Regions from separate parts of the Homo sapiens genome. Here regions 1, 3 and 4 are each reported to be linked to region 2. The links are microRNA targets in miRTarBase. Many come from high-throughput screens and were not tested one by one. Region 2 holds a microRNA gene; each other region holds the end of a gene's coding sequence.
The links. The annotated mature microRNA hsa-miR-6729-3p reads UCAUCCCCCUCGCCCUCUCAG and lies in region 2 at 2,242-2,262, opposite strand. An mRNA with a match to its seed (bases 2 to 7 or 8) in the 3' UTR can be bound and repressed. Matches are read on the target gene's strand: a 7mer-m8 pairs with bases 2 to 8, a 7mer-A1 pairs with bases 2 to 7 and ends in A, and an 8mer does both.

Region 1 (4,000 bases), not on the chromosome of region 2:
CTCACTGCAACCTCCGCCTCCCCGGTTCCAGTGATTCTCCTGCCTCAGCCTCCCGAGTAGCTGGGATTACAGGCTAATTTTTTGTATTTTTAGTAGAGACGTGGTTTCACCGTGTTAGCCAGGATGGTCTCGATCTCCTGATCTGGTGATCCACCCACCTCGGCCTCCCAAAGTGCTGGGATTACAGGCATGAGCCACCGCGCGCAGCCAATGGGGCTTTTAATAACAGGCGCCCTCGGTGAGGTCGCAGCTCCTTGGCTTGTAGACTCCAGGATGGGACTTGGTGGGTGTGGCAGGCCCCTCTTTGAAGAGTCACGGCAGATAGCCCTCAGTCCTTGCTGCATCCCGACTCCTTGCCTGCAAAAGCTCTAGACAGAGCACAGTCCTCAGCCGCCCCACACAGCCCGAGTTCTGGAGCCAGGCCTCGGGGGAGGCCAGCTCCAGCCCCCTCTTCCCCCTCCCCCACACCTTTTCCTCCTCCAGTGACACAACTGGAGCAAGTTTCCAGGAGGAGAGAAGAATTCCAGTGAAGCAGCAGCTGCACGTCCGAGGCTTGGGGAGGACCCAGGACTGTGTGGGTTTCTTACCTGCCTGAGCCACCTCAGGGAATCTTCCAGCCTAATGCAGGCATTTCTGCACCTTTGGGGTCATGCTTTGTAGCAGTGTCTCCCTTGCGACCTCGCAATAAATTGGCCCCACGGGGTGATTTTGACAGTCTGTGCTGTGCTCTGCCCCTAGCTGGGCAAAGTCCCAGAGCTTTTGTGGAGCCCGTGCCTGCCTCTGCCCCTGGCTTTGATCTTGCTTGGCCTCCCATGGGGCATGGCCTGGGCCATCCTGATGGACGAGGCAGGTGAGGGTCAGGACTCGGAGCCTGCTGCAGAGATGGCGGTGGGGGCAGCTCCTGGGTCTCTGGAGCTTGTTCTGGGACCTTGCCAGGAGCCCGCGGCAGCAGGCTCCACTCCCTGCTCAGGTGCCCATGGGTGCAAGGCTCCTACTGGGGTTTGCGGTGCTCGTTTGTTCCCCGTGCACTTACGGAGTGTCTGCTGTGTGCTGAGTGTTCTGGGGACGATGGTGTTTGTGGAAATCACTGGGAATGAGAGGAAGGAGGGCCTGGAGCACATGACAGGGAGCAGTGTTGCCTTCGAGGGTGGCCTGCGTGGAAATTCACGGAGAGGGCAGGGGAAGATGCGCAGTGAGGGGCGGACCTGGAGAAGGACGACAGCATCCCCGGAGACAAGGGGACAGCGTCCAGGGATGAGGACGATGGGGGTTTGCTGCTGAGGGCAGAATAGCTGGGAGTGTGGGGGGTGGGAGCCTGTGTCGGGGCTGGAGCCAAGCAGGTGAGACCCCGCTCCAGGCTGGCTTGTGGCTGTCAAAGCAGCTGCACCTGCAGTGATTTTTTTTTTTTACTGACTTTCCTGGTCTCGCCAAAGATGGGCTCCATGCTGGGGGTTTGTTGGGGGTGCCCTGGGAAAGGCTTCTGTAAGGGGTCAGCAGTGAGCCTGGGCAGAGGGACAAGCTGACCGCTGGGTGGCTCTTCATAGGGGCTCCCAACGGACGCAGGGACCAGGCCTTTGTACCCCTGCATCGGCTGGTCACCAGCCACAGGCTGCCCCTGGGAGGGTCGTAACTGTGTGAGCTGGCTCCCTGCCGCCAAGAGCTGTTCCTGCTCAGGGGGGTCTGGGATGCTGGGTGGGTGTAGGCACCCCCGGCTTCCACTACCTCTGCTAGAAAGGAAAAAGCTGCTAATGGATACTTATTTGATGGTACACTTAATTCTATAAAAGTTAGAGAATATCTACAAAGCAAAAGAAAGAACCTGTAAGTGACAATTATCCGCACTGTATTAGTCCATTCTCGCACTGCTACACGTACATATCAGAGACCGGAAAATGTATAAAGAAAGGAGGTTTAATTGGCTCAGGGTTCTGCAGGCTGCACAGGAAACATGGCGGCATGTGCTCAGCTTCAATCATGGCGGAAGGAGAAGGGGAAGCCGGCACTTCGCATGGCTGGAGCGGGAGGAAGGGGAGGGGCTGCCACACACTTTTCAAAACAGCCAGATCTCGTGAGAATTCTATGACCACGAGAACTGCACCAGATGGGGAAGTCTGCCCCCGGGATCCAATCACCTCCCACATTGGGGATTACAATTTAACATGAGATTTGGGCAGAGACATAGATCCAAAGCGTATCACAGACACCTGGATATTACCATGGCCAACGCTTTGTGTGTGTCCTTCTGATCTCTACAGGCATGAGTGCACACAGACAGACGTGTATCTAAAAGTGGGAGCATCCTCTCTGTTCTGAACTAGGCCATGAACATCTATGTTATTAAATATTTTTCTGCAACATAATTTCCCCAAATGAATATAGCTTTATTTTTTATTATATATGCAATATACGCTTATTTAAGAAAGAAGACAGCAAAGACAAGAGTGATAAAAATAACTGGGGGAGGTGGCATATACCTGTGATCCCAGTGACTTGGGAGGCCGAGGCAGGCGGATTGCTTGAGCCCCGGAGTTCCAGACCAGCCTGGGCAACATAGACCCTGTCTCTAAAAAAAAGATCTTAGTCAGGTGTGGTCGCACACACCGTAGTCCCAGCTACTCAGGAGGCTGTGGTGGGAGGATTGCTTGAACTAGGAGTGTGAGGCTACAGTGAGCTGTGATGGCACCACTGTGCTCTGGCCTGGATGAGAGAAAGATGCTAACAACTAATTTTTAAAAATGAGAAAATCATCTTAATCTTAAAATTCAGGGATAAGCATTCTGAGCATTTTGGGGAACATATTCTTTATTTTTATTATTTTTTTTGAGACAGAGTTTCTCTCTTGTTACCCAGGCTGGAGTGCAATGGCAGGGTCTTGGCTCACTGCAACCTCTGCCTCCTGGGTTCAAGCGATTCTCCTGCCTCAGCCTCCTAAGTAGCTGGGATCATAGGCATGCGCCACCACGCCCAGCTAATTTTGTATTTTTAGTAGAGATGGGGTTTCTCCACGTTGGGCAGGCTGGTCTCAAACTCCTGACCTCGTGATCCACCCACCTCAGCCTCCCAAAGTGCTGGGATTACAGGCGTGAGCCACTGCGCCCGGCCTCCACTGGTCCCTTTTCATTGGAGATGTTTGCTCTTCCTGATGGATGGGAACTCTCTAAAGCACAGCAACTTCTCCTATGCCTTGTGTGCAAATAACTGTCTTGCAGTTTGCAGTTTGCACGTGGAAGTTTTTCTCGTGTTGTGAAATCCACGTGTCCTTTCCTCAGGGCCTGGCTTGCTGGAGTGCGTAGAGAGCAGTCCCTTGCTGGGCTTATGTATGCAAGGGTAGCCTTTGCCCAGATTCTCACCACCGTTTTAATGAATTACTGCTTAACCTGTAATTGTATAACCAATCTAGCATTAATTTTTGTGTAAGGTTTGAGAGCCAGCTATCTAGATCTATCCCCAAACAATGGGCGTGATCGAGTAATCCATTTCTTTTCCCTGGTGGGCATATGCCTGCCTCTTAGTTGCCGTAGGGGCCCCTTCTGTGCTCTGCTGTCTCCACCTGCAGCTCTGTGGCCTTTTCACATCTGCCAGGACAGGCCCACCCTCCTCTTCACCGGCCCTGTGAAAGGCCCTGCGGTGACCATGTGCTTTTTCTTCCAGATGAATTGTGCAGTGTGTGTCAAGTTCTAAAATGTCTCGTTGGGACTTAGCAATTATCTTGTTTCATTTGATTGGCAGACAGTTGGCATCTTTTGAGCAGAGTTTTCTGGCTTGTGAGATGATACTGTGGTCACTTGGTATATGGTGTAAGATAAGGGTATATGGTGTAAGATAAGGGTCCAATTTCTCTCTTCTGCATGTACATATCCGACTTTCCAAGCGCCATTTGCTAAAGAGGCTCCTTTTGCTATTGTATATTCTTGGTCCCCTTGTCAAAGATTAGTTGGCTGCATATGTGTGAGTTTATTTCTGGACTCTATATTCTGTTTCATTGTATCTGTTTTTATGA
Region 2 (6,234 bases):
GCTGCGAGGTCTCTGTCCCTCTAGGGGGCACCCCAGGCTAGGATGCGATCTGGACCGTACCGGGTGAAAAGGGCTGCTGGTGCCGGACAGCTTCTGGTGCTGGGCCTCAGCGGAGACAGAGGACCAGAGGTCCAGGTTCCTGGGGGCTGAGCTTTTCTCAGACTTCGGAGGAAAAATGTCCCAGCCCAGCAGGCAGTGCTGTGGAAGGCAAGGAGTTAAAAGTGCCTGACCTGGGACAAGCTCCCCGCTGACTGGGCACACCCCCATCAGGGAGGAACTGTGCCCCCCATTAGGAAGGAGGCCCCCACCAAGGCAGGGCCTGTGTCTACCCACAAGACTACCCCAGCTCTCCCCTTTCTTATCCTGGCAGATCCAGCCATCCCTGGGGCCCTGAGAGCTGAAATGGGAGGAGGATAGGACGGTGACAGTGACATTCACAGGGTACTTCCTGCTGTAGGCTCTCCAAGCACCTGCATGGATTGCTTCACTCAACAGCCCCACCTCACCACCAACATCCCTGAGGATGGCGCTGTTATGTCCATTTTACGGACCAGCAAACTGACTTTCCTCTGCATCCTTCTCCTCCTCTGACCCCAGCTGCCCTACTCTCAATTTAGGAGTCAGGGGGAGTTGCCACTGGCACCCCATCCCGACCTGGAGACACAGGAAAGGACATTTTTTTTTTTTTTGAGATGGAGTCTCACTCTGTCACCCAGGCTGCAGTGCAGTGGCGAGATCTCAGCTCACTGCAGCCTCTGCCTCCCAGGTTCAAGCGATCCTCCCACCTCAGCCTCCCAAGTAGCTGGGACTACAGTGGAGGCTGCAGTGAGCTGAGACCATGCCAATGCACTCCAGCCTGGGCAGTAAGAACAAAACTCGGTCTCAAAAAAAAAAAAAAAAAAAAAAAGCAGCAGCAGCAGCACAGAGACCTAGGTTCGAATCCCAGCTCCTCCACCAAGGCGCCTCCCCCTCTGCTTCGGTCTCCCCACCTGCAGGGTGGGGGTACAGCAGTGCCTACACTCCTGGCTGCTGTGGGGGCTCCATGAGATAAGCCCCCTAAGGACTGTGCCTGCAGTACACAAAAGCGCAATAAACAGGACCCATTCATGTCATGCCAGCCTGCAGGCAGATCACCCTGGAAGCACCGGGGTACGTGGAGCGGGGGTCCTACCTCCCTTAGGTACAGGTGTGGGTGATGGAAGAGGCCCAGGCTGTGCTCCAGAGACTTGGGCGCTCACCCTTGTCGAGCCCAGTCTCGCTCTGTGACCCTCCCTGGGGATCTGGGCCAGTCTGAGCCAGCCCCGCCCTCATCACCATCCAGCCCCACGTGGCTGCTCACCCGGGGCAGGGCCAGTGTGTCAGAGGCGTCAAAGCTCTTTCGCCGGTGGATGTGGTACCGGTGCGGGGGCTCCAGGATCGACAGCGGGATGCTCACCCTGCGCAGGGGGGCAGTGGGGGACCCCTGAGGAGCCTCCCAGCGGTTGGGGGCCCACGCCCAGGCCCATCTTTTCTTAAAACCAGTGGTTCAGGCTCTGTCCCCCAAGGTGTCCCAATACTCTGGTCACTCACCTGACGTGCGCTGGCTGCGCCAGGGTCCCAGGGCCCTGCTGGTCTCGCGGTGTCCTGCACAGGCGGCAGGGGGTACCGGGATCCACAGGCACCGGGAACAGGCGCCGGTTGACACGGTAACAGTACACGCCTGCGAGGCCCATGAGAAGCCACAGCTCTCCCTGAGCCAGGAACCCAGGTCCCCAGGCTCCGTGCTGCCCTCAGCGGCCCCCAACCACACAAGCTGCCAATCCCTCTGGGAAGCCCTTCGGCCCATTTCCTCCTAACCCCTTTCCTCCCAGAACCTGGGGCCCACGCCCTAAGGGGTGGGGAGGGACATCCTCCTGGGGCCCTCAGGAGCTGGGATGGAGTCCCACCAGCACAGGGGCACTGCTGGGGAGGGTGGGATGGTGCCACACAGGGCAGCCCCTAATTCGGTGGCCAGGCCTTAGCTCACTCCACCCCTACCAGGGCTTGGCCACCCTGTCCAGACTGCAGGCCTCCCTCCATGAGTCTCAACATCTCAGGGGCCTCCCCAGGCCCCAAACCTCAAATGGGACTGCTCTGGGGCAGGGGAGGCCAGGGCAGCGCGAGGCTGGACTACTCAGCGGCCTAGCCGAGGGCCCGCACTCACATTCATGGTCTTCCTCCACGCCGCTGCCACTGCTCTCACGCAGGCCTGGCAACTGGGGTCTGAGAGGGCGAGGGGGATGAGCAGGCCGGGGGATGGAGCCGCTCAGCCGCCCTCGCCCACCCTCGCCCGCCCCTGCTCACTCAGGATGGCTGCAGATACACTCCTCCTTGTTGGTTTCCCGAAACTCCTGCAGCTTGGAGAAGAAGGCCTCAGGCTGGCTGGTGATGGAAGAGCTGGTGTCCAGAGACCCTGGTGTGGGCAAAGCACCAGGCAGCTGACGGGAGAGGGGCTGGGGGCTGCTGTGTGGCCACCGGCCAAGGCTTGGAGAGACGATCAGCCCTGGCACCCCAGGCCACCTGCTTCATCCCTACTGTGCCTCAAACAGGCCAGGAGGGCCCCTCCAGTCACTGGGACTGTTGGTTGGTTTCAGTGTCTGTCTACCCTGATGCATAGCCAACCATCCATGGAAAAAATATCGACAGAGCCCTTATGACAGGGCTAGATGCTGTTTCATGTGCCAGGAACTAGACAGACAAAGCCCCTGGCCTTAATGAGGCTTACACTGTAAGGTGGCAAGAGATGAACTAGCCACCAAAAAAAAAAAAACCCGTGATACAAGACTGAATGCTGATACCTGCCAGAAAGCAAGAGAGCAGCGTCAGAGCCTAGTATGGCCGGGCAGCCATACCAGGGAAGGCCTCTCCGAGTGAGATGACCCTGAGCAGAGACATGGAGAAGCCACAGAGACCTCCCAGGAAGGACATCGCAGGGAGATGAAAGAGCAAGCGCAAAGGCCCCGGGGTGGGCATGTGCATGGTTCAGCTGAGGAACAGCCAGGAGGGGAAAGTGGCAGGAAGGCAGCGAGGGTGGAGGAGATGAGGTTAAGAAGCCCAGGGAGGGTCTGGGGAATGGGAGGGACACAACCACATCAGCCACATATTTTTACAGAACTCCTCCTCTGGCTGCTTCAAGTTGAGGGGAAGCAGAGGCATCGGTTAGGATTCAGCTGGGGAGAGGTAGGGGCAGCCCCCAACTTACCATGATTCGACTTAGGATGTTTCTTTTTTTATTTTTTGAGACAGAATCTCACCGTGTTGCCCAGGGTGCAGTGCAGTGGAGCGACCTCGGCTCACTGCAACCTCTGCCTCCCAGGTTCAAGCGATTCTCATGTCTCAGCCACCTACAGAGCTGGAATTACAGGCGTGCGCCACCACACCCAGCTAATTTTTGTATTTTTAGTAGAGACGGGGTTTCACCATCTTGGCCAGGCTGTTCTCAAACTCCTGGCCTGATCCACCTGCCTCGGCCTCCCAAAGTGCTGGGATTACAGGCGTGAGCCACCGCACCCGGCCTAAACAGTATTTTCAACTTATGTTGGGTGTATCAGGATGTAGCTGGATGGTAAATCCAGCAAGTTTATGGCCTGACCTATTTAGTATTTGGAGTTGCCATTTATGGAGACAGGAAAGACTGCAGGAGGAGCACAGCAGTGGAAATCAGGACCTTGATTTCGGACAGAAGGTTAATAACTTCATGGTGATGTGGAGAAGACAGTGGGATATACAAGTCTGGAATTCGGAGGAGAGGTGCGGGCTAGAGATACAAATGGAGAAGTAGAGAAAGTGTCCAAACACCTCAGCGTTTGGGAGATCATAGAGGGAAGATAGAGAGGAGGAGTCAGAAGACCGAGTCCCAGGCCTAGGGGTGTAGCAGTCAGAACAAGGACCTTTCCTTCCCCAGAAGCCTGGGAAGGAGCACCAACAGAGATGGGGGAGAACCGGGAAGCAAGTGGCTGGAAGTCCAGGGGAGAAAGTGCTTCAGGAGTGACCACTGTGTCCCCTGCTACTCAAAGGAAGATGTGGATGAGGGCTAAGCTGGGGAGTTGGCACCACGGAGGCCACTGATGACCCAACTGAGGGCCATGTTGATGAAATGCTGGGAGCTGAAGCCCGATTTAAGAAATAGTAGTGGAGGCTGGACACAGTGGCTCATGCCTATAATCCCAGCACTTTGGGAGGCCAAGGCGGGCAGATCACTTGACATCGGGAGTTCCAGACCAGACTGGCCAAGATGGCGAAACCCTGTCTCTGGCTAAAAATACAAAAATGAGCTGAGTGTAGTGGTGCATGCCTGTAATCCCAGCTACTTAGGTGGCTGAGACAGGAGAATCACTTGAACCTGGGAGGCGGAGGTTGCAGTGAGCTGAGATCACTGCTCCACTGCACTCCAGCCTGGGTGAAAGAACGAGACTCCATCTCAAAAAAAAAAAAAAAAAGAAAAAGAAAAGGAATAGTAGTGGAGAGAAATTGAAGGCAACGAGGCTAGACAGCCCTTTTGAAGAGGAAGTTTTGTTATCGAGAAAACAGGCAGTCACTGGAAGCAAATGTGGGCTAAAGGTAGGAATGTGGCATCGGGATGAGAAATAACAGACAGCGGCTTTACCCCGACTGGATGTGAGCTGCTGGTAAGATTCTGTCTCACCGGGCCTCAGCCTTCCCATCTGTGAATGGGCACCATGGTGGTGCCTACCTAATAAGCTTATCATGAAGGGCAAAGGAGTCAGCGGGAGGAACAGGAAGCACAGCTCGGAGCGGTGCCTGGTGCAGGGAGCATGAGATACAACCAGCTCCCAGAATGCTTCCTGCACGTTCATGCTCATGCTAAGGGGCAGGATGAGGATGCAGGACAGAGAGGGAGAGGATCACAGGAAGGAAACCCTGGAGGAGCCAGAAGCAGAGGGGCGGAGCACGCTGGAGCAGGGCCAGGGTCCAGGTGGCAGCATGGACAGTCACCTCGGCAAAGGCAGGGGAGCAGAGCGCATGGACCAAGAGCAGGTACTGGGACAGGCGCTTCCATTTTCCCAGAACCAGGAAGGAGGGCAGTGAGCTGAGAGTTCAAGAAGTACTCAAGGGCAGGGCCTGTGTCCCCGCCACCAGTTGCTCTCAGCAACTCCACAGTACACCTGTCTTTGTTTTTTGAGACAGAATCTCACTTTGTCGCCCGGGTTAGAGTGCAGTGGCTTGATCTCTGCTCACTGCAGCCTCCACTTCCTGGATTCAAATGATTCTCCTGCCTCAGCGTCCTGAGTAGCTGGGATTATAGGTGCCCGCCACCACACCTGGCTAATTTTTGTATTTTTAGTAGAGACAGAGTTTCACCACGATGCTCAGGCTGGTCTCGAACTCCTGACCTCAAGTGATTCGCCCACCTCGGCCTCCCAAATTGCTGGGATTACAGGCGTGAGCCACCATGCCTGGTCGTGGCCTCCTTTCTGGTCCTGCCATGCCTGTGGCCACCCCATTATGTGTGTAATCCCAGCACTTTGGGAGGCCAAGGCGGGCAGATCACCTGAGGTCAGGAGTTCGAGACCAGCCTGGCCAACATGGTGAAACCCCGTCTCTACTAAAAATACAAAAATAAGCCAAGCATGGTAGTGGACGTCTGTAATCCCAGCTACCTGGGAGGCTGAGGAAGAATTGCTTGAACCAAGGAAGCGGAGGTTGCAATGAGCAGAAATAACACCACTGGACTTGACTCTGGGCAACAGAGAAAACAAATAAAAATAAAAAAGGAGGAGGCCGCGAGGCTGGAAGAAAGACGGGAGGTCACATCATGGGGCCAGTAGAGGCCAGATCATGCCTCGTAAGTCTAGATAGGGATTTTGGATTTTACAGTAAGTGCTGGGAAAAGCCCATGGGGAGGTTTGAGTAGGGGAGTGACATGATCTGATTCCCATGTTTAAAAATTCCCTCTGGCTGCTATGTCAAAAGTGACAGTGCACAACCATGTCACCAGCAGCATTATTCCCAACAGTCAAGAGATGGAAAGCACCCAAGTGTCCATCCCTGAATGAACAGATAAACAACATGTGGCATCTACACACAACAGAATGTCACTCAGCCTTAAAAAGGAAGGGAATTCCAGCCAGGCACAGCGGCTCACACCTGTAATCCCAGCACTTTGGGAGGCCGAGGCAGGAGAATCACTTGAGTGCAGGAGTTCGAGACCAGCCTGGCCAACACAGTGAAACCCCATCTCTACTAAAAATGCAA
Region 3 (4,000 bases), not on the chromosome of region 2:
CATAAGATCCAAAGCTATGTCTTCTATTCCTATATGTATTCCAAAACCTGAGTTCTTGGGGCTTATATTGATACTGGGTATCCCACGGGCCTAAAAGCTGTGCCTTTCAGGTCCTTTTCATTTCTGACATCAAAAAACTTCTTTCTTTCAAACTTGGTTAAGCATTAGTTATTTTTAATATGCTTTTTGAATCTAACATTTCTGTATTTTGAAAAGAGGATGCAACTAGATTAAATTACCTTATTTTGGAAGTTATCTGCTCCAACTTCTAGAATTATCAGATTTTAGAGCTGGATGGGACTTTAGAGATCCTTTTTTCACTCCATGAATTGAGATTTCAATTTATTTCTATACTATCAGGTACCAGATAAGTTTGGCAGTTGAAAAAAATTACCACAGGTTATTTTTATTTTTCTCCCTTCAAATAGATTCTAAAATTGATAGATTCAATTTTATATTAATTGAGCATATCCAATGTGGTGGGTTGCTGAAGGTAGCAAGAGGTATAAATTATAGCTCCTGATCTTAAGCAGCTCATATTTTAATAGGGGACTAAATGTAAACAAACGATTGCAAAATGATGTAATAAATCTATTATTAGTAAATTATGAATGGAATGCTTTAGTAGATTTGGGGCTCTTAGTGCAGCATGGGGAAGCCAGAGAAGACTGGAGGAGGTACACTGTTGTTGCTAGATTATCAAGAGTTAATAAGTGTGTTTATGAATGTGAGTGTGTGTGTGTGTGTGTGTGTATGTATATCTGTGTGGGCTGGTGGTGGTACTTATGGCATTCCAGGTAAAGCCAGAAACAGTGCTGATAGTCATCGTGTAGGAATCAATAATACATTAAAAAGGAACTCAAATAAATCCTGGGTTATATACGTTTAATCTAACAAATAGTTGTTGAGGTCAACTGTTCGTATCATCCACCATGAAATAACATGCCCTGTGTATAAACATGGCAGTGATAGTGTGCTCTTACTTTACTGTTGAGAATATTAAATATTATAATTTTCATGTTTAAAAAACTTCAATTTCTTGGAATAAGCCTAAATGTGTCGTTTTAAGAAAGATCAAATGCAAAATCATGACAGAGGGTTGCTACTATTATCTTCTTACATAGCTCTCTTCACAAGGTCTTCATCCTCTCCTACTACCTACCACCTTATTCAACTCAAATCACTGCCCCTCCATCCCTCTCTTCTCTGCTTTCTCAGTAAGGCAGAGTTAAGACTCAGAATGATCATCAATGGTGCATTCTGATTATGAACTCAGGTAAGTCATCAAAGACTGAAGGAAGAAAATAGTAATTGCCAGGACAGGAGGATTTAATATTTCTCTGAAGAGGGTAGACAATGGCCCAAAAACAATGTTAGTGAAATCTTGGTATATATTTGTTCTCATTAATTCTCACATTTTTTTCCTTGTAAACTAGGTAAGGATCACAAATGATATAACTATGGATTATATTAGTGTCTTAGAAATACATAGTAGGTATTCAAAACATATTTGGTGAATGACCAAATAAATTGAATAAAACAAACAAAACAGGAGGGGTCCTGGGACAACTGGATACTCATATGCAAGAATGAACCTGGACCCCTCACTCCATATACAAAAATTTATCAAAGACCTTAGGAGGGGTTAATGTGGAATACCTGCTGATCAGGTAGACAATTGCATACAATGAAAGTATTCTGGATAATACTGATTGCACAACTTTGTGAATACACTAAAAACTACTGAACTGTACATGTTAAAAGGATGAATTTTATGGTTAAGTATATCTCAATTTAAAAAGTAGATGCAAAGAAAAAATAAAATAAAGTAAACAATAGCAGCAACAACAAAACCATGGCCCAGAAAGCTGAATTGAGGCTCTTATTGAAATGTTCTGCCTAGGCAGTCTTAACATTGGAGTGGAATGTAAGTTATAGATGAATGAACACTTTTTAGTTAAAACAAAATTGAAGATAATTAAAGGATATGCTATATTTCATATATATGAGGCATTTTTTTTTTCAGATTTCTGAAATGGGAATGTATCTTTCTTTTTTTTTTTTTTTTTGAGATGGCAGGGTGAGCCCTGTTGCCCAGGCTGGGGTACAGTGGCCCTATCATGGCTCATTGCAACCTCTGCCTCTCAGGTTCAAGTGATTCTCCTGCCTCAGCCTCCTGAGTAGCTGGGACCGCAGACGTGTGCCACTATGACCAGCTAATTTTTATATTTTTAGTAGAGACAAAGTTTCCCCATGTTGGCCAGGCTGGTCTCAAACTCCTGACCTCGGCCTCCCAGGGAATGTGTCTTTTAATTGACAAAGTGTCACAATTCATTTGGCTTCATTTTTTCTTTGTGGTACCTAAAATTGTGAGATGTCTTAGATTTAATGAAATATAATACTCATTTTAAAAACAATGTGGCAGAGGCAGAGGTTGTTAGCTGTACCTCAATATGTACTCTCTTCTTCCCACACAGTAATAAGAATGTTTTTAGCTGGGGAAATGATCAACCACCCAAAGACTCTATTTCCAGTTTTCCTTAAAGCTAGGTGTGGCCATGCACCCAAGTTCTGGCCAATGATATGTAAGCAGAGGTAGTGTGCGCAACTTCTGGTTTATGACCTTAAAGGGAAGGAGTGTGCTTCGCTTCTTTTCCTTTCTTTTCTTCTTTCCTCCCTCCTTCTTTTGTTCCTTCTTTTCTCTTCATCCCCTCCCTCCTTCCCTCATTCTCTTCCTTCTAGATAGCAGATGTGATGGTAGAAGCTGAGGAGCCATTTTCATCCATGAGATGGATGCCACATATTGAGGTTTGTAAAGCAATGAGAGAAGGTAATGAGTTCTTAATGATCAGGAAACCAGTAGACTAGCCCTGGACTGACTGTACAGACTTTCATGTGATAAAGAAACTAGAAAATTTGTTTAAGCCATTCGTCTTTGCTACAGGAACTGACCAAATATTCTATCAAATATAAATGGTTTCTAAATTTCATTTTTCTGGGAGTAAGTATTACCACTTTCTGCAATGGGATAAACTCCACTTCCTATACACACACACACACACACATCCCCCTTGTTTGGGTGAAATGAGTTACTAAATGTAGCATTTATTTATAAGGAATGCATTGTGAATAGTTTCTCAGTTTTCATTATGGAAAGATGATGATTTCAGCCCACATTCAGTGTATGTTTCTAAATAACACAATCGACAGGACTGTCTGTTCAGTACAATGGAGGACAGCTTTTTCAGGGCAAATGGGATTTCTTGATAATGCTAAATCTGTCTTGTCAGCTGAATTTCTTGGGCTTTATGTGGCAGTGTGGTAAAAATATATGATCAGATTTCACTGTTAAGAAAATTCTTTCAGCAATACATGTAGAGTCAAGTTTCTTGCATGGATAACTGAACATGTGGGTTATGAGATTTTAAAAAATGTCTCGTGACAAACTTTACGGAAATGCAACAATCTGGACATCTAGTTTTGTCTGAGAGTGGCGTGGATATGAAGAACTGTGCTGTTGGTGCTGATGCCACACTAAGTTTTGGCAGTCACACTCTTGGTTCTTCATATTTGAGGAGATGGGATGGTGAGGAGGCCTGTTGGCTTTATTTTATTAATGCCACCATCTAGAATACAGATTCTTGGATATTTCATCTTCACAAGGTGAGCTGCAAACTGGAAAAAAAAAGAGGCAAAATTTTTAGAGGATATACAGAAGACATCTCCAACCTCATGTTTTTTCTCAGAATTTGAAAGACAAAATTAATTTAATGTTATGATTGCTGCCACCACTGTATAATAAGTTGTCAACTTGGTTATTAATATAAATTAAATCACTCTTTTATATGCTGACGCTGACAATTTCTTTATCTTATGGAATAAATGTCTCTTCAGTTCTCTTTTATGATTTTTTTGAATATGTGATAAATATACATGGTAAACAATTCAAATTCAGTAGTAAAGGGTATACAATGAGAAGTAAACTCATTCCACTTCTGTT
Region 4 (6,234 bases), not on the chromosome of region 2:
AAACCAAAGGGCAGACAGAATGTTATAGGGCAGCAGTTTTCCAAATGTTTATGCATAGAGAAGTGAGCACAGTTCAAAGCCAAAAGAAAATCTATAGGAACCTGAAAAGCTGTGCCAAGCAAGTCTGAATAAAGATCAAGCAGGGATATAGTTTTCTGTTTCTGGAGACTGAAGTCAGAAACCAGAGCTTTATCCAATCACATGAAATGGGCTCACAGGGCTCTGGTGTTATGATTTTCCTCCCTCAGCTGTGGGAGTTGGCCTTTTCTGTGATTGATGGTCAGGTTCAAGAGAACTTCCATGAAACACCAAAATCTCTTTCTGGAAGAAACTGTGCTCATTATGGCAATTACATTGGACATTTGCCTCGCTGTCGTCTTGTTTTTCAATGCTACGGTTTTTCTCTTCTTTTTTCATTCAGGAAAAACAACATAGGAGAGTGACACAGCAGGGATCTCGCTGATAAAGGACCTGCATCTGAATCCAGCTCCTCCATCCATGGGCCATGTGTCCTGGTTGCTGAGACATCTGGAGAGCCTTGTACCTCATCAAAAGAAGAGAGACAGTAATCCTTGCCTTTCTTTCCTCCTAAGGTTGTTAACGAGGCTTAAATGAGAGAACAAGGATGAAAGTATTTTGTAAACTCTAATGCCCTGTGTATAAAGCAGAGAATAATAGCATCTGTGGTGTTAGAAAATGCCTGGAACTTTGTAAAGATGTTGTTTGATTCAACATTACTGGAGTAAACCACACCATTAGACAGAATGAAAGACTCCACCGCAGAGAGAGAGACTGATTTTTATAACAACTGAATTTATTATAGCATAAACTAAATACAAAGCTCTGAATAAATAATCGTTTTTTTCAGTCATCACATCTGCAGGTGTGTATGTGAACATTTCCATAAGCACATAAGGATACAGATGTCACAGACATATTTAGTGAGGGAAGCCCAGAGTCACGGTTCTCTGTGGGTAAGAGCTAGATGCCTTGAGATGAACATACAGGGCACCGTCTCAAATGATTTGGACTATGTGACTGTGTTCGTTTCTCCTTCAGACTCTGCTCAAGAAAGTGTATTGATAACAGGTTGCTCCGCCCTCAAGTTTAGGGCACTCTCCCACGCTCTTTCATGCAAAGTTTTTTAACACCTCTCTTTAAGAAAATTCACAAATCAGAAGTATTACCCCAGCTTCAATCTGACAATCAGGACCCCTACTCTGCCCCTCTTTCCTAGGATCTTATCTCCATTAGGGGTCCCCTTTCAAGGTACAGGGCAATTGAGTCTATATGTCCACACAATCGGATCTGACAAGGCTGGGAGCCCTCCCTCCAGAGCCCATCCTCCCATGAGTGTCTGTCTGGTATTCTGTGTGGGTAGTAGTAGAAAATAGTTCACATCTGGTGGCTCATGTCTGTAATCCCGGCACTTTGGGAGGCCGAGGCGGGCGGATCACGAGGTCAGGAGATTGAAACCACCCTGGCTAACATGATGAAACCCCATCTCTACTAAAAATACAAAAAATTAGCCGGGCATGGTGGCAGACCTGTAGTCCCAGCTACTTGGGAGGCTGAGGCAGGAGAATGGTGTGAATCCGGGAGGCGGAGCTGGCAGTGAGCCGAGATTGTGCCACTGCACTCTAGCCTGGGCAACAGAGTGAGACTCCATCTCAAAAAAAAAAAAAAAAAAAAAAGGTTCACATCACAGCATAAGACTGAGACACTGGGTGTATCAAGCTTGAAAGAGATCTTGCAGGTAATTGAGTTTCATCTGATACTTGACTTCCTTCTCTACTTGGCCCTTGAATAGCCACTTGTTCCTCCAATGTCCTAGAGTACATTCCACTGCTATCAGTGCTGGCTGTTAGGACAGTGGTTAGGGCAGATGGCCTGAAGCCATCCCCACTGTGATCTTTACCCATTTGTCCTGATTTTGCCTTCTCATGCCACCTGGCACAAGTAGGATCCTTCTTTCTCAGGAAAACCCTTCACAGTCCCCTGACTGTTTTCTTTCCAGGCTGGGCACTCCCTGTTCCTTCAATTACTGCTTCTAAGATGTAGTTAATCCCAGGAATACAGTCTTCAAAATGAGTCTCTTTTCCCAAAGATTTTATGGCTGCTTGACTAGTGGAGGACTAGATTCTTTTCTTCCTGTTCCCTGCCAGCCTTTGCTAGTGATAGAATCACTTAGGATCAAGGCAAGAGCAACTCAAAGTCTCAGAAAGACAGACAATCATTTTTTTGTTTTGTTTTGTTTTGTTTTTAATACACCTCTAGCCCAGGCCTGGCAGGATGCCTGGCATTCATTTGAACAGAGGGCCTGGTATTAGCAAAGGGTTGCCCATTCTTTGCTTGACTGTGAGATCACACTAAGCAACCTGCCCTGCTGGAACTCTGGAATTTGGAAGTATTTGGCAGCAATATAAGGTTTGCTCAGAAGATCTGTATTTGAGGCCTAGATCTGCTCTTGCCATTACTGAATCTCAGCTTTCTCATCTGTATGGTGGAGATGATAAGCCCTTCCTTGTTCAGTCATGGGACAATTGGTACCATTCAGGTGAGTTAGTGGAGGTGAATGCACTTAGCAAAGGGCACATTTAAGTATGAACTGTGCAGGCTGATCTTGCTCATGACTAGGTCACAGACCATCTCTAGCTTGCCCCTGCCTACAACCCTCTACTTTTGGAAAATGAGAAACACTTTTAGAGAAGGACATTCAGAACTGCCATATCATTGCTGAGGCTGGCTTTGCAAAAGGAAACATTTCTTTCTGTACCAAAAAAGACAGTGATTCTGCAGTCTTGAAACACTAAAATATCTTCACGCCCTATTTTAAAACCAGAAGTAACAGGGTACCCTCATGGCTGGGAGACACCATGTTCCTAGAATCAGCTGCAATCATAGAGCCATCAGCCATGCTCAAGAGCTCAGTTAGGGGGAAGGAATGCTTGCAAATGCTATTGATAAGTTCCAAAGCCAGCCTGGGCCAGGACACTTATCCCCTGATCAGAACATTCACCTAGGATTTGATGCTCATAATACAAATTTTGCTTTTGCCTTAAAATATTATATGTAGGTGTGCTCCTAGAGTTCAGTGTTGTCTCCTGAGGTAACAGAAACCTGAGTCTTCCTTGTGCTGAACAAATCAAATATAACCAAATTGTAATAGTGACAAAATAAGGACAATTTTAGTTTTCTGGAAACTCAAGCCACAAACTTTAAAAAAAAAATGTACTAGTTGTGTAAGAACTCCCATCAATAGTGCCATATAATGCTGTAGCATGAGACTAATGTTTCTCAAAAATAATAAAGCAGAGGAGTGAAAATTTCTGGAGTTGGCCATGTGACATGAGAGATTCCTAAAACATAGGATAAGTTACTGGGGTTAGGAAAAGTGGGCTGTAGTGGACAGCACTCGTGCTTTCTGATCTGTTATTTTCCTCTCCTTCCCAGGACTACGTTCCAGACCAACTCTATCATTTGTGGGGCCTGGTACAAAATGAAAATATGGGGACCCCTGTTCAAAAATTAAGAATTTTAAGATGGAAACAGCAGAGTGTTAAAGCCAAGTGTGGGGACCTTCTAAGCATGGGGCCCTGTGTAGTGACAGCTCATAAGCCCATGAAGCATCCCTAAACACAGGAGACTGCACTTTCCAGCTCCCTGGCCAAATCCTTGACTAATGAGATATGAGTAGGGAAAGCAATGTGTGCCACTTTTGGGGTGAGGCAGTGAAGAGCCCACACGTGATCTCCAGTCTATTCCTTCCCCCATCACAGTCAACACACAGTCCTTGCATCGAGCTGATGGAGCCATCAGGTTGAAGCAGTCACTGCTGTAAGAATGGCAGTTCCAGAGTGTCACCTGGATCACGAAAGAAGCACTTGTGTGTTAAGGCACTGATATCTGAGAGTTGTTTTTTATTGCAGCATAGGCTAAGCTTATCCTTAACAATATGTTGGGTAAGGCCAGAAACAGAAGAAAAAGCCTCAAATCTGAAAAGTACTACAGAGAAAAGGAACCCAGACAGTAAAGATTGGTGTAATGTTTCCCACGCATTAGTTTTTCCATCGATGAAGTAAAAATTCAAAAATTACAACTCCGTGAGTATACACAGTACTACTTCCCCTCAACTCATTTTTATAAAAAGGAAAGTATTGTCCTGTCCTAAGAGGAAAGATCACATATTTTTCCCCTTTAGCCTGCTTGTCTCTTGGCCCATAGAAATTCTTGGCCCATTCTTGCCTTCACTGAATGCCTCTAATACCTTCAGAAGCCAAGAGGAAAGCACTCTTCTGGGTCAATGTTCTTCTCTGTAGACAGTATTTTATCAAACAGACTTTAGTTTGTCACCATGATTTGATAGGTAGCCCCAAAACTCCAGCTGATGTTACAAGAGTCTCATTTCTTAAAATCAATGAAACTGGTCCCTTTTGTCATTGTTTCTCTGTAATATCAACTTGGATATCACATGTCCTTCAGAGTTGTTCTTCATTGCTCTCAAATACTGGATTGCTGTAAGACACTCCTCTGCCACACTCCGGCATGTCAGAGTGGGAGGTTTGGTTTAGCGGGGGCCAACTAGGGTCATTTGCCAAGTCCCTCTGCCATATCCGATACTGGCTTTTTGACTGATAGCCGAAACATCTTTTAATCATCATCCACAGGGCTCGATTTTCAATAACAGCCTCCTGCAAAATAAAATAATTACTTTTTACAAGCAAGGGTTGAGTGTTTTGAGGCTACAGCCCTCCACAGGCCATCATAAGTCACTACTGCAATGGTTGCTTAGATCCAGCTTGACAAAGAGCTTGACCACTGGACCAATCTAAGGTGGTTTCATTGGACAGGTATTGGTTTCTCAAACGTTTCTACTTAAGTAACTCCTGTGGGAGAAGTAAGAGGTACAACATTTCAAGACTCTGGGAACATAACTTGAAATGGCTTGCCTCAAAAATGAAGTTTCTTTTGAATCTCACATCTAAATTGAATTTAAAATCATTCAAATTCTATGTTTCACTCTATAGCACATCTATATTTTGTTTAATATAAAATGACATTAAAATTACTACTAAATACTAAACACAATTGACCCTATATAAAGATGTGGCCCATGTATGACATGTTTTTGATATATCCTGACATATCACTGCATATTTAATTTCACACGGGCCAGTCTTGGAGTTGAACAGATCTGGATTTAGGTCCCAGTTCTGACACCTATTATGGGCAAATTAGTTACTCTATCCATGTCTCCGTGATTAGAATAATCCCTTCCTTATGTTTGTTGTAAGGCTTATATAACTCCCTTTACAATGCAGGGCAGGGCAGGGCATAGCTCTCTCCCTTTGCCTACCCTTTGGAACTACTCATTTAACAAATGGCTATGCACTGTGGTCCTGTTCACACATGCCTCTAACCTTCACCTTCACTGAAATACAGTATTAAGATTACAAAAGACATGTCTCTTTGAAAACATTTTGCAATGCCATTTTATTTCATGAGTTAGAGTGAGCCTTGAATAGAGCCCAAGTTATAACTTATAATTCATGAGAGGTTATCATATTAATTTTCCACTTTTATCATGTTTGCTCACAAAGATTGACCATCTTAGAGGTTATTGTGAAAGAAACAAAGAAAAAATATGGGACGTGAAACTGTCCCACAGAATTAGAACTGATTTTCATGTCTATCTTTGCTAATTTGAAAGAGTTAATTCTGTGAGATTCTATAAGGAACTTTGCCAGATATAGTAGTTTTCCTAAAATCTACCCATTTTTGCCATTTAGGTTCCACTGCCCATGAAAGGATAGAGAACAGCCAGTCTGCATTATTCCTGTGATAACTGACCATCTGCTGGCTGCGGGGCTGTTAAAGATCCATATAACCGTCTCAGCCTCTTGGAAACTTAGCCAGATGAGTTATTCTACTTTCCTGCAGCAAGGTTTTTTTGTCCTCCTTAATTGACGTGAAAACAGTAGTTCTTCTTAGAGCTGGGATAAGGCAGGAGCATCGAGTAAAGGTTTTAAAATCTTACTTACTTCAAGGAAACCTTAGCAAACCTTAAAACAAAATAGATGAAACCACACACACACACACACAGAGAGAGAAACTTTGGTGCTCTCCATCTCTACATCTTGCCTTCAGTGTTTTTTAGTTCTGGACTCTGATGACCTGTATCACCTTGCTGCTCTGGAAGAGGAAACTACAGAGAGGTGATCTGTCCTGTTACCG

Region 1: the mRNA of ANKMY1 is a reported target of hsa-miR-6729-3p. The part of its 3' UTR that is shown has no 7-base or 8-base seed match.
Region 3: the mRNA of TBCK is a reported target of hsa-miR-6729-3p. Seed matches in the 3' UTR shown: 7mer-m8 at 3,064-3,070 and 8mer at 2,705-2,712.
Region 4: miRTarBase lists ATP13A4 as a target of hsa-miR-6729-3p. Seed matches in the 3' UTR shown: 7mer-m8 at 1,898-1,904.

Annotation. Positions count from the first base shown.
Region 1 is chr2:240,476,139-240,480,138 of GRCh38, reverse strand. ANKMY1 (ankyrin repeat and MYND domain containing 1) reads left to right here. Exons shown (of 18, transcript NM_001282771.3): 18 at 484-717. The coding sequence ends at 530. Among named protein-coding and RNA genes, the nearest start is that of GPC1-AS1, 21 kb to the right of the region's middle. RefSeq lists enhancers at 414-923, 924-1,433, 1,434-1,943.
Region 2 is chr1:12,025,230-12,031,463 of GRCh38, reverse strand. MIR6729 (microRNA 6729) reads right to left here and starts at 2,306; the gene lies at 2,242-2,306. It overlaps MIIP (migration and invasion inhibitory protein), which reads right to left. Exons shown (of 10, transcript NM_021933.4): 5 at 2,323-2,431; 6 at 2,183-2,241; 7 at 1,570-1,699; 8 at 1,340-1,436; 9 at 61-198.
Region 3 is chr4:106,043,006-106,047,005 of GRCh38, forward strand. It overlaps TBCK (TBC1 domain containing kinase), which reads right to left. Exons shown (of 26, transcript NM_001163435.3): 26 at 1-3,675. The coding sequence ends at 3,565. Among named protein-coding and RNA genes, the nearest start is that of NPNT, 150 kb to the left of the region's middle.
Region 4 is chr3:193,398,174-193,404,407 of GRCh38, forward strand. It overlaps ATP13A4 (ATPase 13A4), which reads right to left. Exons shown (of 30, transcript NM_032279.4): 30 at 794-4,691. The coding sequence ends at 4,479. Among named protein-coding and RNA genes, the nearest start is that of ATP13A5, 23 kb to the left of the region's middle.